Homo sapiens: one gene and its partner. The protein of the gene in region 1 purifies or fractionates together with the protein of each later gene. This does not show direct contact. Each region holds a gene or a part of one and is shown on either strand. Other genes may lie near its edges.

Evidence for each region. The genes of interacting proteins can lie anywhere in the genome.
Region 2: the proteins of NFIL3 (region 1) and STK40 purify together in Homo sapiens (affinity purification with mass spectrometry; 2 studies listed by BioGRID and IntAct, with this or other methods). This does not show direct contact.

What each region holds. Positions count from the first base shown.
Region 1 is NC_000009.12:91,420,816-91,427,960, reverse strand, and holds the start of NFIL3 (nuclear factor interleukin-3-regulated protein), read left to right. Parts: upstream 1-4,128; 5' UTR 4,129-4,321; intron 4,322-5,532; exon of another isoform or gene 5,533-5,961; intron 5,962-6,256; exon of another isoform or gene 6,257-6,339; intron 6,340-7,145.
Region 2 is NC_000001.11:36,375,904-36,382,928, reverse strand, and holds part of STK40 (serine/threonine-protein kinase 40), read left to right. Parts: intron 1-7,025. UniProt on the Homo sapiens protein: May be a negative regulator of NF-kappa-B and p53-mediated gene transcription.

The sequences.
Region 1 (7,145 bases):
CTTGAAAACAAAACAGGTCTGGTGCTGTGACTCACACCTGTAATTCCAGCACTTTGGGAGGCCAAGGTGGGAGGATTGCTTGAGCCCAGGAGTTTGAGACCAGCCTGGGCAACATAGAGAGACACTGACTCTAACAAAAAAAAAATTAAAAAATTAGCCAGGCATGGTAGTGTGCACCTGTAATCCCAGCTACTTGGAAGGCTGAGGTTGGAGGTTTGCTTGAGCCTGGGGGGGTCAAGGCTGCAGTGAGCCGTGATCACTCCACTGCCCTCCAGTGTGGGCAAGAGAGCAAGACCCTGTCTCAAAAACAAAAACAACAACAACAACAACAACAACAACAAAAACGGTATGCTATGGATTCCCAGAAACTGAACTTCTGTTCCTGGAGTTTAATAAAAAGACACAAGGTGGTCCATAAACATACTACAGTGGAAAGAAAATGGTCCTGGCACACAGGAGCCCTGATGCAGGCTGCCGGCCACCAGACCAGACAGGAGGTCACCAAAGGGCTTTTAGTTATCGAAGTTTTTTCTACAAAGAAATCCATAAGTCCAATGCACAAAACAGATAGGGTAGAGCTGCCCAATTTGGTTGCCAGGTAGGCAGCCTGCTTTTTAGCCACTGAGTCCCCCGTCTCCACCCCCTGTTCCCAGGACATCTCTGTAGAACTCAGAGGACTCAGACTGTCCAGCCTCTGGGTAGGTAAGTCCTGCAGTCTTTTATTTTTTAATGAATTGCTTGCCTAAACTGAAAATCAGGATATTTTACCAAAAAAAAGAAAGTCAACTTTCTTTTGAATAATTGGAGCTGTGGGCTGTGCAGTCTTTTATTTTTTAATGAATTGCTTGCCTAACCTGAAAATCAGGATATTTTACCAAAAAAAAAAAAGTCAACGTTCTTTTGAGTAATTGGAGCTGTGGGCTCCTGGAAACAGCAATTGATGAGAGAGCTGAAAAACAGTCTTCTTCAGTGGGTCACTTTCTTTTTGCCACAGTCCACGTGTGGCTAACGTCCTGAATTCTCATTATCCATCTGACTTTACAGTTACTCCGGCCTAGTGAGGTCCACTGTAAAATCCCTGGGATATATATATGGCCTCTTGGGGATGTTCCAGCTCAAGACATTCTGCAGCTGTAGAAAAATTATTACTATATTAAATTAAGTTGTTACTAAATTACAAATTCCTATTAATTCCCATTTTAGTAAGGAGAAGTCACTGTTTTAGTCATTCTGTTCTCAAGCTATAGCTCTTATATTTGCTTAGTCAGAAACCATGTTGGCAGTATAATAAAATGAATTAGAATGTGGTTGATTGTCTTCTGCTGGTAGTTCTCATCCCTGTCCAGGCACCTCCTCCCTTGCCCCTGCCCTCAATCCACCCCTAGCACTGAGAGGTTGCTGAGAGCAAGAACCCCTTCCTCCTCCTCCTGAGAACCTTACAGCCCAGCTCCACCATCAGGCACATGCTGATGTCTTCCTAGAAGCCTCCCCACCCTGGTTAATTTGTTTCAAATATCTTAGGTTTTTATGCTCCATTTACTCGAGTTAATCTGCAAATACTTACCTACTCTGTGAATGTTCTAGGATATAATATTAGATACATCATCACTTCGGCCCTGGGGACAGATCCTTCATCCTGTTGTTTAGTGGTGTCCTAATCACCAGGAGGAGCTAAAGAGTTGTTTTCTAAGCTGGTATCTCAGATACCTTTCACACTTCCTCTGATTTCCAAGTTAGATGGTAACAATGAATGATGCACAGATATAATACATACACAATCTAAAATACTCCAAGTAAATATAGGAGCATTCGATTTCAAAATTCAGCATAAAGAATAAGTTTCCAGGTTGAGAGAACTCCTCCAGCATCACTGCCTGGGGTGGCTCCAGGCACGTTCTTTACCTGTCTTGAAGGTCGAGTTGTCTTTAAAGAAAGACATTTACTACAACGGCTTTGAAATTCCATGAAATTATTCAAAATGCAGAACAAGGTCAGAACACGTGAAGGGGAGGGTAGATTATGCAGGACAGCCCTGGATTTCTAGACAATAGCTGCATTTCTGACCCCAAAAAGGCAACTAATATGGATATGATTTTGATTTCATCTAAGAGAGGTTCTCAAAGCTACAAATAAGCATTGTAAGGTTTGGGCAAAAAGGAAACTATCAGTAAATTTGAGAAAAGTGGCCAGGCACAGTGGCATGCGCCTGTAATTCCACTACCAGGGAGGCTGTGGCCGGAGGATCCTTTGAGCCCAGGAGTTCCAGGCCAACCTGGACAACATAGTAAGACCACATCTTGAATTATTATATATGTATGAGAAAAGTGGAAATTATAAACTAAAATCAGGATTTGTTCTCATGAAGGTAGTCAAGTTTGGAAAATGTGTAGTGGAGGGGATGTGGTTCTTGCATTAGTCAGCACCGGGAAGATGGTGTCGGGGAACACGCTAAGCCCATATTGTACGTCTGAGTTTTCAGAGCCTTGTCAGCAGAGCTGTACTACCAGATAAATCACGAACAAGAGTGCGTTCAAAACCACAACGCTGCCCTGGAAGGCTTTCCAAAAACTCAACTGATAGGTGATAAAAATTTTTTAAATATGACTTGCGTTATTATGATATTAACTGTGCAAGAAGGGGAAAGGTAGAAAAGACAATCTTGGCGAGTAGATAGATCTGCTGCTCATGGCAGACACTAGGGATGGTACCTGGGTGTTCACTCTGCTCTTCTCTTTACTTTGGTTTTTGCTTTTTAAAAACGAAAGGAGCAAAAAGAAGTGGAAAGTCGTGGAGGCACTCGGCCCAGCCCCCACGTAGTTCAAGGAGACCAGGAGGGAGCTGGCTGGTGGAGGTCCTGCCCACCTGCCACACTCCGTATTTGGGCAAGCCTGTGAGTCACTGTCGGGAACATGGCTCCCTTCGCCAAGGCCAGCACTGACCACTATCCGTGTATCGGTAAACGCAGGGAGTGTGCCACGTGCCTTGACAGTCTAGCGCGACGACTTAAGAAGTCGCGGCTAGGTGCTCTTTTTTCCATTTTTTTACGTCTCTTCCGTAGCCCGGGAATTTGGGAGAGAAGACTACCGTATCCAGTTAGACGCAGAAATAACACTAAGCAGCTATCAGCTCAAAATCACAGGAAGAGATCCCGCGCGGTCGTCTCAAGCCCCAGCACCAAACGACAGTGGGCGTCCCAGCGGGGGCACCCGAGCGCGGACCTTCACATCCTCCGAGGAACGCCGCACCCGCGTGGCGGGGGTGGGTAGATGGACCTCAGCGAGCCTCGTTTCCCAGTCGTGTTACGCAACAACTTTGCAGCCGTCATCTTCGCCCTAATTGTGCAGGGGGCGGTGTTTGTGCGTGGAGCTTTCCCTCCCGGCTCCGGGCCGTCGCGGCTCTCGGGAGAGGCGCCGGGACATTTTAATCGCTGCCTCCGCCGCGCAGCCCTGCGCAGCTGCCCGGCCGCGCCAACCCCTTCCCCGCCGCAGCGCGCCCCGAGTGTTGGCAGCTTGCCAGCCGCCACCCCCCGCCTTCCCTCCTGCCCACCCCAAGGTAGAGGGCTCCTCTCGGGAGTGTGCGGGGAAGGGGAGGCCGAGGTCCGGGCCACGCCCGGGTAGCCGCAACCCGCAGTGCTCAGTCGGCAACAGGTAGCCCAGCAGGCTGCGGCTCTCAGGAAGACAAAAAGCGCCTCTGCGAGCAAGTGAGGGTCGCGGGGAGCGCAGAGCCACCGCGGCGACCGGGAGGGTGAAGGGAGCCAAGAGCGGACGGGGCGGTGGGACGGGGGGCTCCCGGGCTCCTCCGCAGGCTCGCTCCGGTCGTGTCGGCCGCGTGGGCCGTTGCGCAACACTCGTTGCGCCGGGAATGGGGCGCCAGCCCTCGCGGGCGCTCGGACGGCGGTGGCCCTGGCCGGGGAGGGACGCGAGCTGGTAGTGGCGCCGCCGCGGAGGGGGAGCTGAGGGCGGGGAGGCGGGGCGGGGCCGCGGAGTGCCCGCCCCGGCCCGCCCCTGCCGGCCGCGGCCATTGGCGGCGGGCCGGGGGCGGGTGCGGGCGCGGCGATTGGGGCCGCGGCCGCCAGTCACGCGGGGCTGGCGGGCGGCGACGTAGCGCGGCGCTCGGAACTGACCTACTAACACACATCTCTCCGCGCGGCCACGGCGCCCGCGGACCCGGCGCGCCCGCCCGCCTCCCGCGCCGCGCCCTCGCCGCCGCCCGCCTCCCGCCGCGGCCCCGGAGGCCCGGCCCGGCCCGAGCCCCGAGCGCCGGCGGCCCGACTCCCGGCCGCCCCTTTCTTTCTCCTCGCCGGCCCGAGAGCAGGAACACGGTAAGCGCTCCGCCCACCGCCGGCCGGGGGCCCGGCGACCGCTCCCAGGGCGCGCTGCGGGCGGGCGGGCGGGCGCGGGGTGCGGGCCGCGCTGTGTGCGGGGTCGGGCTGTAAGCTGGGCTCGCCAGCGGCGGCGAGTGCGCGCGGGGCATTCATTACATAAACTTTTGCTGCCTTGTCAGGATGGGACTCGCCACCTTAAGGTGGCTGCTTTGATTGCAGCGCCTTCGCGCCGGCACGTAGTCCTGGCTGGTTTGCGCTCTCCCCCCGCTGCTGTTGCATAATGTCTCCTGATTTCAGGAAAATTGATGTTTTGGTAAAGAAGAGCGCCAGGCAGGCTGAGCCCTCTCCGAGCGGGAAGATGCTCTTTCCTCTCTAGTGTCTTTCTTTCTCGTTCCTTCTCTGGGGCTGGCGGCGTAGGGGGGAGAGGAATGGGGGGTTGAGGAATGGGGAATAGTCTTAATTTGCTTGGTGAGAAAAAGGGTTGGTAGCGTGAACGGTGACGGCATTCGGAGAATGCCTGCGCGGCGTTTGTTTGTGTCAGGGGCTGTGTCTGCACAGACGTTTTCCACCCTGTTTGTCGTCAGCGTGTTTTACAAGCCCTCGGGAAGGTTGTGGGATTTGTCCTTTCATACATTGCATAATCTGCCCACGGTGAAATGTTGGCAAGAATTGCGGGCTGATGTGGGAATATGCGCGTATGTGTGCAATGATTTGGTAATTGAGGCGCAGCGTTGGATATTAGATCGTTATTTACGTCTATATTACGTCCCAAATAAACAGGTTTTAAAACGATACTACAAAACCTAAAAGCAAGAATTGCTCGCATTGAATTCTGATCTTGGGTACTACTGGGGTTCGCCCTTTCAATGTTCTCAGCTGTTATTTTTAAATCTGGGACGAACCATTGTGACGTTTACCTCCCCACCTTCCTAATTTTAATGCATTCCATTCGATCAGCCCTTTTTCTCACCTTATTGTCATTGCTTTTTCAGACACGACAAGACAAATCACATAATAGTTTCCTGGAAATGTTGCATTATGTAACTGCCGAATTTGCTGGCAGTGAGCATAGAGAGAGGGAGCTAATTACGTGATTTTATAATCTTGCTACAAAGAAAGTAGGACAGTCTCAGCCTTTAAGAATGTCACTATAACAGTTTTTTTTTTTTCCTTAAGGATATTTTAAACAGGAAAGTAGACAACCGGGTAAGCATGGAGTTTGCTCATGCTGCCGAATGTGTGTCTTTTGCCCTAAATGAAACGCACGTTCTTCTAAATTTAGCCCTATCACATTTTAACAATTGTGGCCTCGCAGTGCTATTTCTGGTGTTTTCTCCAGGGCTGTGTGCAAATACAAGTTCAAGGCCATTTGCTGTAGTTTTAACTCCACGCCTTCGGAGACCTTTGATAAGATTGTATTTTTAGGAAGGCATTTCGCAGCGCCCGGTGATTTGCTGGATGCTGGCTCCCATTTATGTTTTTAAAGGACACTTTAGGAAACTGCTGTTCTCTGAGAACAGCAGGGAATGGCCAAGTGTCATCTTCTGTTCTTGGCTTTTGTAAATAACAACAGTAAGTGAGGTCAGAAGTATTTATTTACCCCCAGACCAGATATGACCTATGGGAAACAGATATAGGTTAGTAGATTGTTTTTTTGTCTGGATACCCTGGTTTTACTTATGTGAAGATGTGTGAATATGTAATTTACCCAAATATTAAATTTCTTCCTGGACTGTTACATAGTGATTATGTGTGAATATATGTATATGATGGGATGTATATATAACGTAACATTTAAATTAAGTGCAGGGTTTTTTTTTGTGGGAGGTGGGGGGTGGACGTCTCTGGAACAGAGTATATTACCCCAAATAATTGCAGTCGCTTTCCAAGAAGCTAGTTGCTCTAGGCCCCCAGCTTCAGACCCCGACCTACTTTGCGAGCTCGGGTGGGAGTCCCAGGCCTGTAGGGGCCGCGTGGCGCCACCTTCCGATCGCGATCTCCAATGGCGAGTCCGTGCGGCCCCCAGTGCGCCGCTCCCTCCTGCGGGCCGGTGGGGTCTGCGAGAATCCGGGGCTGGGGGCGGGTCTGGTAGTGGCGGGCGGGGACCTCGGGTCGGGACCGAGAAGCGCCTCCGAACGGCAGTTATACTGGGGCTGCTCAGTGGCCTGAGCTCCTCCCTGCCCCCTCCCCACATTCCTTTGTTCTGGCGCGGGGGGTCCTCGCGGCGCCGAGGCCCCGCTGCGCCGCCCACCCGGAGGGAGGAGGGTCTCTGGGAGGCGCCGCGTGGGGGCGCGGCCCGTGGAGCCCGGGCGCTAGGGACCGGCCGGGGCCGGCGTACGGGTGCGCTCTGGGTTCGCCCGGGCCGCGGGAGCCAGGGAGCCAGGGAGCCAGGGACCCCGGCTCCCGCACGGGGCAGACAGGGGCAGCGCGGGCGACCCGGAGCGCCTGCGTCTCCGCGGCCCTCCTTCCAACAGGGCAAATCCAGGGGCCTGACTCCGCGCCTGTTCTGCGGTGAGGTTCAGAAACCTGCAGACACCTTTGTTCCAAGAGTCTTCATTGTATTTCGGAACCAAGCGCGTCTCCATTCTTGAAGTGAAAAAGACCTTAAGAAAAACCTCCAAACGTCCACCGGCCACAGAAATTGGGGGTGGAGGCGCTCCAGTATTGATAGTGATTAAAAGGAAGGCCTCAGCTTGACTTTGGCCAGTTGAGTTGAGCCGATTTTTTTTAACCTTTAATTTATGTGGTCAAAGGCTAGAGGAGAGAGAACACTGATCTCCAGAGTTCAAAATAAAATCTAAACGCCCACATAGACGCTGCT
Region 2 (7,025 bases), on another chromosome or scaffold:
CTGTGTTCTACTTCTATCCCTGCTGGTCACTAGGGATTACTTATTCTCTCCACCACAGCTTTCTCATCTGTAAAATGGGGACAATAAGAGTACCTTCGTAATAGGGCAGTTGTGAGGAGTAAGTAAGATGTTACAGGATGAGTACTTAACAGACACTGAGTAGTAAATGTTAGCTCTTATTACAGGCTACAGGAAAGAACTTTTAGGAATTAGTTGCAGCAATTCATGGCAACTAGAACTATGTCCCATTGAGCTGTCAGAAGTGTCCTGAGGGATCACAAGATCACAGAGTTTTATTTTATTCTTTCTGAAAAGAAAATCTAAGGGGAGTTTACCCAGTCTGTATGGGAGCCATGCAGATGATTCAGTTTGGCTCTTTAAAAGAACTATTTTTAAAAATAGAAGTAGGACTGCTGAGAAAAAAATAGTACTTTAAAGTATACATGGGTTGGCCAGGCGCGGTGGCTAACGCCTGTAATCCCTGCACTTTGGGAGGCCGAGATGGGCAGATCGCTTGAGCCTAGGAGTTCAAGACCAGTCTGGGCAACATGGCGAAACCCGTCTCTACAAAAAATACAAAAATTAGCTGGGCATGGTCATACGCACCTGTAGTCCCAGCTACTAGGGAGGCTGAGGTGGAAGGATCTCTTGAGCCCAGGAGATCAAGGGTGCAGTGAGCCGAGATTGCACCACTGCATTCCAGTTTAGGTGACACAGTGAGACCCTGTCTCAAAAAAAAAAAAGTATACATGGGAGTAAATGTATTTAGAATTTCTTCTCTGTGTGTCCCTGCTAGCAACCCTAGTCTGGTACCTGAATAAGCAGCATCAAGAGGCATCACACACACTGATGAGTGTGGTAGCTCAAAATACAGAGCCCTGATTCCACATACATGAGCTCCCATGTGTGGCTGGGGCTCTGCTGGGTCCTGGGGGCAGGAGGAGGATGGAGAGGCAGGCCCTACCATGGAGGAGGTTGTGATCTAGGGGCAGGCTCCTAACCAGTTAACATGTGCACAGTTTGGCAAGTCTCTCACAGAAGTCTATAGCATGTGGGGGAACCCAGTGGAAGAAGTGATCGAGCTCTAGGATGAGGAGGAGACTGGGGAGAACTTCAGAGAGCCCTTAGAACTTGAACTGGGACTGGGCACAGCAGCTCACACCTGTAATCCCAACACTTTGGGAGGCCGAGGCAGGAGGATCGCTTGAGCCCAGAAATTGAAGACCAGCCTGGCCAACATAGTGGGACCCCATCTCTACAAAAATTAAAAAAGAAAAAAATTAGTTAAGCGTGGTGGCATGTACCTGTAGTTCCAGCTACTTGGAAGGCTGAAGTGGGAGGATCACTTGAACCTGGGAGTTCCCAACTCCCAGTAAGCTGTAATCACACCACTGCACTCGAGCCTGGACAACAGAGTGAGACCCTGTCTCAAAAAAAGAACTTGAATTGGATCGTGAAGAATGAATAGAGTTTTCTGGGGGTCTATGAAGCCCTCCAGGCAGGGGGAGCAGCCTGGCACAAGCACGGATATGTGGTAATTTGTGTGGCACTTTAGGAACCACAGGAGTTCTAGCCCAGAGTGTGAAGGGACTGACTGCAGGATGTGCCTGAGAGGTAGGCAGGCACTAGGGCGCAGATGCTTGAATTTTGTATTCTGTTGGTGATGGATGCCTTGCATTAAGTGGAGGAAACATACCATTAGACCTGCATCTGCTTTGGAGGATGGAGTGGGTTGGGGAGAGGTTGGAGTCCCCATAGGAGGCTGTTGCAGTAATCCCAGCAAGGGCTGAGAGGGGCTTGGATCAGGGCAGAGGCAATAGGGTTGAGAAGAAGAGCAGAGATGAGCTGTTTGGGGGGAAATCAACTGGACTCTGGGAGTGTTTGGAAGTGATGCCAGAGGGAGGAGGAATGGTGACAGGTAACCTTGAGGTCCTTGGTTTGGGTGACAGAGTGAATGATAGTGCAGAGATAGGGATGGCTCAAGGAGAAGATAATGGCCAGTGAAATCTGCCAGCTTCGTTCAGTAAACCCTGGGCACACCCTCTCGGGAGAGGATCAGTTGGAAGGTCTTGTAGACCCCTGTCTGGACTTGGGCCAGGCTTCCCTTTGCTTTCGCCTGAATCAGCACCTGGGAGAAGGGCAGCTTTCCTTCCTTCACCTTTCCTCTGCCCAGATTTAACCAGGGAGGTGAACCTCTTCATGTTTCACATCTATAAAGCGATAAATCTTCAGCCTTCCAATAGCCCTAAGAGCAACCCTTCCCTCTGGCAATATCCACCCCGATTCAGCATACTACAGCCCACTGATGGGGTCCTGAACAGCAGAGACCCTCAGGGGAGAGAGGCTTTCTCAGTGCCCCCTGGAGATCTTATCTAGAGAGAGGTCTGGAAATTGGATTTGCTGCCTGAAGCTGGCTCAGCAGATTCAGTCCTTCTTCTCAGGAAGGACTGATATCTGCCAGAGGCCACCCAGGACTTGCTCAGAACCTTCAGGGAAGGGAGAGAAAGCTGCCCAGTGTCCTTGACCCTTGAAGTTCTAAGGGAGCCAGAAGCTGTCCCTCAGCTGGATTGGACTATAGTGAGGGGTGTGCTGGTGGGCGGGCCTTCAAACAGGCCCTTTGGAATTTGGGAGATTTTTTTACATGATTTGTCCTTGGGTTTGTGGTGTAAAGAAAGTAAACGAGAAAATGATCTGAAACAAGAGCACTTCTTTCTCCTCCACCTGCTCAGGTGAGACTCTGACCTCGAAGGTAGTCGAGGGCCCACAGCAGCCCCCGCATATCCTCCCAGGCTCTGTAATCAAGATCCTAGAGGGGAAAGGATGCAATTGCTTGCTGTGATTTACTTACTATCTTAGAGATAGTTCCACTTTGGCACATGCAGGTCTGGGTCATTTGTGGCTATGATGTGTCCCACTGTGAGTGTAATTTATTCAACAAGCTCTCTGCTAACAAACACTTGGGTTATTTTCTGCATTCTACTCTCTAAACACTTCTGCTGAAGTGACTTTCTTCATACATATGATTTTGCCCACCTTAGGTATCATCTGCAGGATAAATTTCTAGAAGTGAATTGCTGCCTCAAAGACTATCCTTTATTATTATTATTGTTAAAGAATTTCTAGGTCTCCTTTTAATAAATTGGGGCAGCCTTATTTTTCCCCCAGCAAGTGAATCTGTTCTTTTGGGTTGAGGTCGTACGTCCTGAGGGGAACACAGGTGTTCCCACTCCCTAAAGAGGCTACAACCCAGGCCGGGCGCGGTGGCTCACACCTGTAATCCCAGCACTTTAGGAGGCCGAGGCAGGCAGATCACGAGGTCAGGAGATCAAGACCATCCTGGCTAACACGGTAAAACCCTGTATCTACTAAAAATACAAAAAATTAGCCGGACGTGGTGGTGGGCACCTGTAGTCCCAGCTACTCGGGAGGCTGAGGCAGGGAATGGCGTGAACCCAGGAGGCGGAGCTTGCAGTGACTGCCCTCCAGCCTGGGTGAGAGAGCGAGACTCCGTTTCAAAAAAAAAAAAAAAAGAGGCTACAACCCAACGGTGTTCATTCTCTCCTGGCCATGACAGTCAGTCTTGGGTGTGAGTTCAGGCTCCCCAGAACTTAGCAGTCTACAGGCCTGACGGTTTCAAAGGAACTCTAGTTGTTGGAAAGCACCAGAGGTAGAAAAACTGAGAAGGGGTCTTGGCATGCAGAATAAAGCTGTCCCCTCTAAATATGTTTACACACTGCCACCTACTTGGCAAAAGAGATAGAAGATCTTCAGCCTTTAGGAAGTCTGGATGCAAGGGTCCAGAAGGAAGAGAGAGTGGACTGGTCATTGTAGTGGGAATTGGCAAGAGCAGGACTGATGTGCTTGTCATTTCTCTCTGGGGCAGAGCTGATGTGAGGTGTGTTGAGGGGACAGCAGTGCTTCTAGGGAGAAGCTCGGTTCAGCGCCTTGGGGACCTTGGGCCTGGTGTAGCCCAGCATTCCGTGGGGCTTTTGGAATCCTGTTGCTGGCATCTGCCAACCCTGGGGAGCAAGAGTCCTGCTACTTTTTGCAATAAGTATGGCGCTTCCAGCATTACTGAGTTTGGGGTAAGTTTCATAGTGTGTGTTCTTTTCTGACTCCTGGAGTGGTCCCTTCTGAAAAAACAGGAAGGAAACCAGCAAAAAAAGGAGGCCCGGCTGGCACGGTGGCTCACGCCTGTAATCTCAACACTTCGGGAGGCCGAGGCGGGCAGATCACGAGTTCAGGAGATCGAGACCATCCTGGCCAACATGGTGAAACCACATCTCTACTAAAATACAAAAAATTAGCCAGGCGTGGTGGCGCACGGCTGTAGTCCCAGCTACTCAGGAGGCTGAGGCAGGAGAATCGCTTGAACCCAGGAGGCGGAGGTTGCAGTGAGCCAAGATCGTGTCACTGCACTCCAGCCTGGTGACAGAGCAAGACTCCGTCTCAAAAAAAAAAGAAAAAAAGCCCCACCACCTCCCAGGTCCTTTGTAATACTGCAATACGTTATTGAATCTAAGGAAGTAAGGGTTGTCTCTTATTTTACAGAGAACACTCAGGCTCAGAGCGGGGTAAAAAGACTGTCTACTATTACACAGCCAGTAAGGGCAGAGCTGGGATTTCCAACTCACATTTGTGTGACTCTAAAGCCCATGTTCCCTTCCTCCATCCTGGCTAGGCTCTGGTCCCAGGGAGTCCAGCCCACATAGAATCTTGGACTCATAGAGCCAGCCCCAAAGCTGAACCAGTCCCTTTTTTTGCCTGAAAAATGGAAACTGCCACTGCCTTGAGACAGGTCCCTCCCTGACCTGCCCTATGGGTAGTGGGCAAGGAGACTTGCAACCATGCAGTTAAGGGCCTAGGCTCAGATCAGATGTGGCTTCAGAACCTGAAGTGAGTGACCTTGAACAAGTCACTTCCTGTCTCCAACCCCAGCTTCCTCCTCTGTAAAATGGGCATAACAATTCTTGCCCTTAAGGTAGTCATGAGACACAGGGCTTTATAGCCTCTACCACGTTCAGCCTAGTGCATGGCAGGCAGGCAGGACCCAGGGGCCAGCTCCAGCAAGGCCCAGGTGAGCTCTTGGCAGTGAACCTGTGAGTGTACCAAAAGAGGCATCCTGAGCCAGTTTTCAGCCCTTATGGATGCCAGGGGGCAGGCAGGAAGTTCCTTATAGGCATGTTTGCAGCCTATCTGGAGAGCTGCAGGGGTGTTGTCTTTGTCCTTCTGCCTCTCACTCTTTTGCTGCACCATTGCATTGGCACACAAGCTCACACATCCAGGGCACTTATGCTTACACCTCTTCCCAGGCCATACTCTCTCAAGTCTGCCTTCTCTGAGGCTCAGCCTCCCCTGATTCCACTACTACTTTTTTTTTTTTTTTTTTTTTTTTTGAGACGGAGTCTCACTCTGTTGCCCAGGCTGGAGTGCAATGGCATGGTCTTGGCTCACTGCAACCTCCGCCTCCCAGGTTCAAGCAATTCTCCTGCCTCAGCCTCCCGAGTAGCTGGGACTACAGGCGAGTGCCACCACACCCGGCTAATTTTTGTATTTTTAGTAGAGATGGGGTTTTACCATGTTGGCCAGGCTGGTCTTGAACTCCTGACCTCATGATATGCCACCTCAGCCTCCCAAAGTGCTGGGATTACAGGCGTGAGCCACCACGCCTGGCTCCACTACTACTCTTAATAATTCTAATGGGTTCAGAAAATCTTTAGATTTTAAAAAAGTATTGTTAGTTTAATAGTTTATGGTACAATAGTTAAATAATATGGGAGAATATAAAATAAAGCTCTCCCTCCCCTCCTTGGGCCCTTAGTTCTATTGACTGGAGGTGTCCACTTAAATTTCTTCTAGGCTGGGCACGGTGGCTCATGCCAGTAATCCCAGCACTTTGGGAGGCCGAGGCGAGTGGATCATGAGGTTAGGAGTTCAAGACCAGCCTAGCCAAGATGGTGAAACCCCGTCTCTACTAAAAATACAAAAAGCCAGGTGTGGTGGTGAGCACCTATAATCCCAGCTACTCGGGAGGCTGAGGCAGAGTATTGCTTGAACCGGGGAGGTGATAGTTACAATGAGCCGAGATTGTACCACTGCACTCCATCTCAAAAAAAAAAAAAAAAATTTCTTCTAGAAGTTGCCTATGCGTATTCAAAAGTGTGTATAATCTTTTTTAACCCAAGTAGGATTATGTTGTACATATATTCCTGCAGTGTGCTTATTTTGGTAACATAGACATCTTTATCAGCAGGTGTGGACCTAGTCGGAAAGGCTGCATAGTATCCATTGTCTAGCTGAACATAATTAGTTAACCAGTCCTCTCTGGATGGCCATTTAGATAGTTTCCTGCCTTGGGGGCATGTGTGTGTGTGTGTTGATTTTTATGGTTTTGTTTTTTGCTGCTACACGTGGCTCTATAGGGACTTTTGTTGAGCACATTATCTTTGTGAACCTGTGTGAGTATATCTGCAGGATCCATCCCCGGAACTGGCATTGCTGGGCCCAAGGCAGGTACATTTTCTTTTTCTTTGTTGGCTATGGTTTCACACCTTTTTTCTGCATACCTTCTGGGCTTGTGCAGAGCCTGGGAGGCCTGAGGTGGACCAGACCCTTCTCGAGACCTACATATAAGCAGACAGGTAATGAACACGCCCTCAATGCATGGACATAGTCTTTCACTGGTGGCTGCTGGCCCTCGTGATCTGCCGTGTCCAGCTCTTGGTGATTCAGAGCAGGTGAAGCCAACAGAGGGGCACTCTGAAGGGATCGCCTGCTCTTGGCTTTTCTAATCATACCAGGCAGCCTGTTGCCCCTCTGAGCAGCCATAGCCCTCAACATTCAGTCAAACTTCAGAAAGTGAATTGTATTGCTCGCTGTCAAAGTCGTGAATTTTTTTTTTTTTTTGAGATGGAGTTTTGCTCTTGTTGCCCAGGCTGGAGTGCAATGGCGCGATCTCAGCGCACTGCAGCCTACGCCTCTGGGGTTCAAATGATTCTCCTGCCTCAGCCTCCCTAGTCACTGGG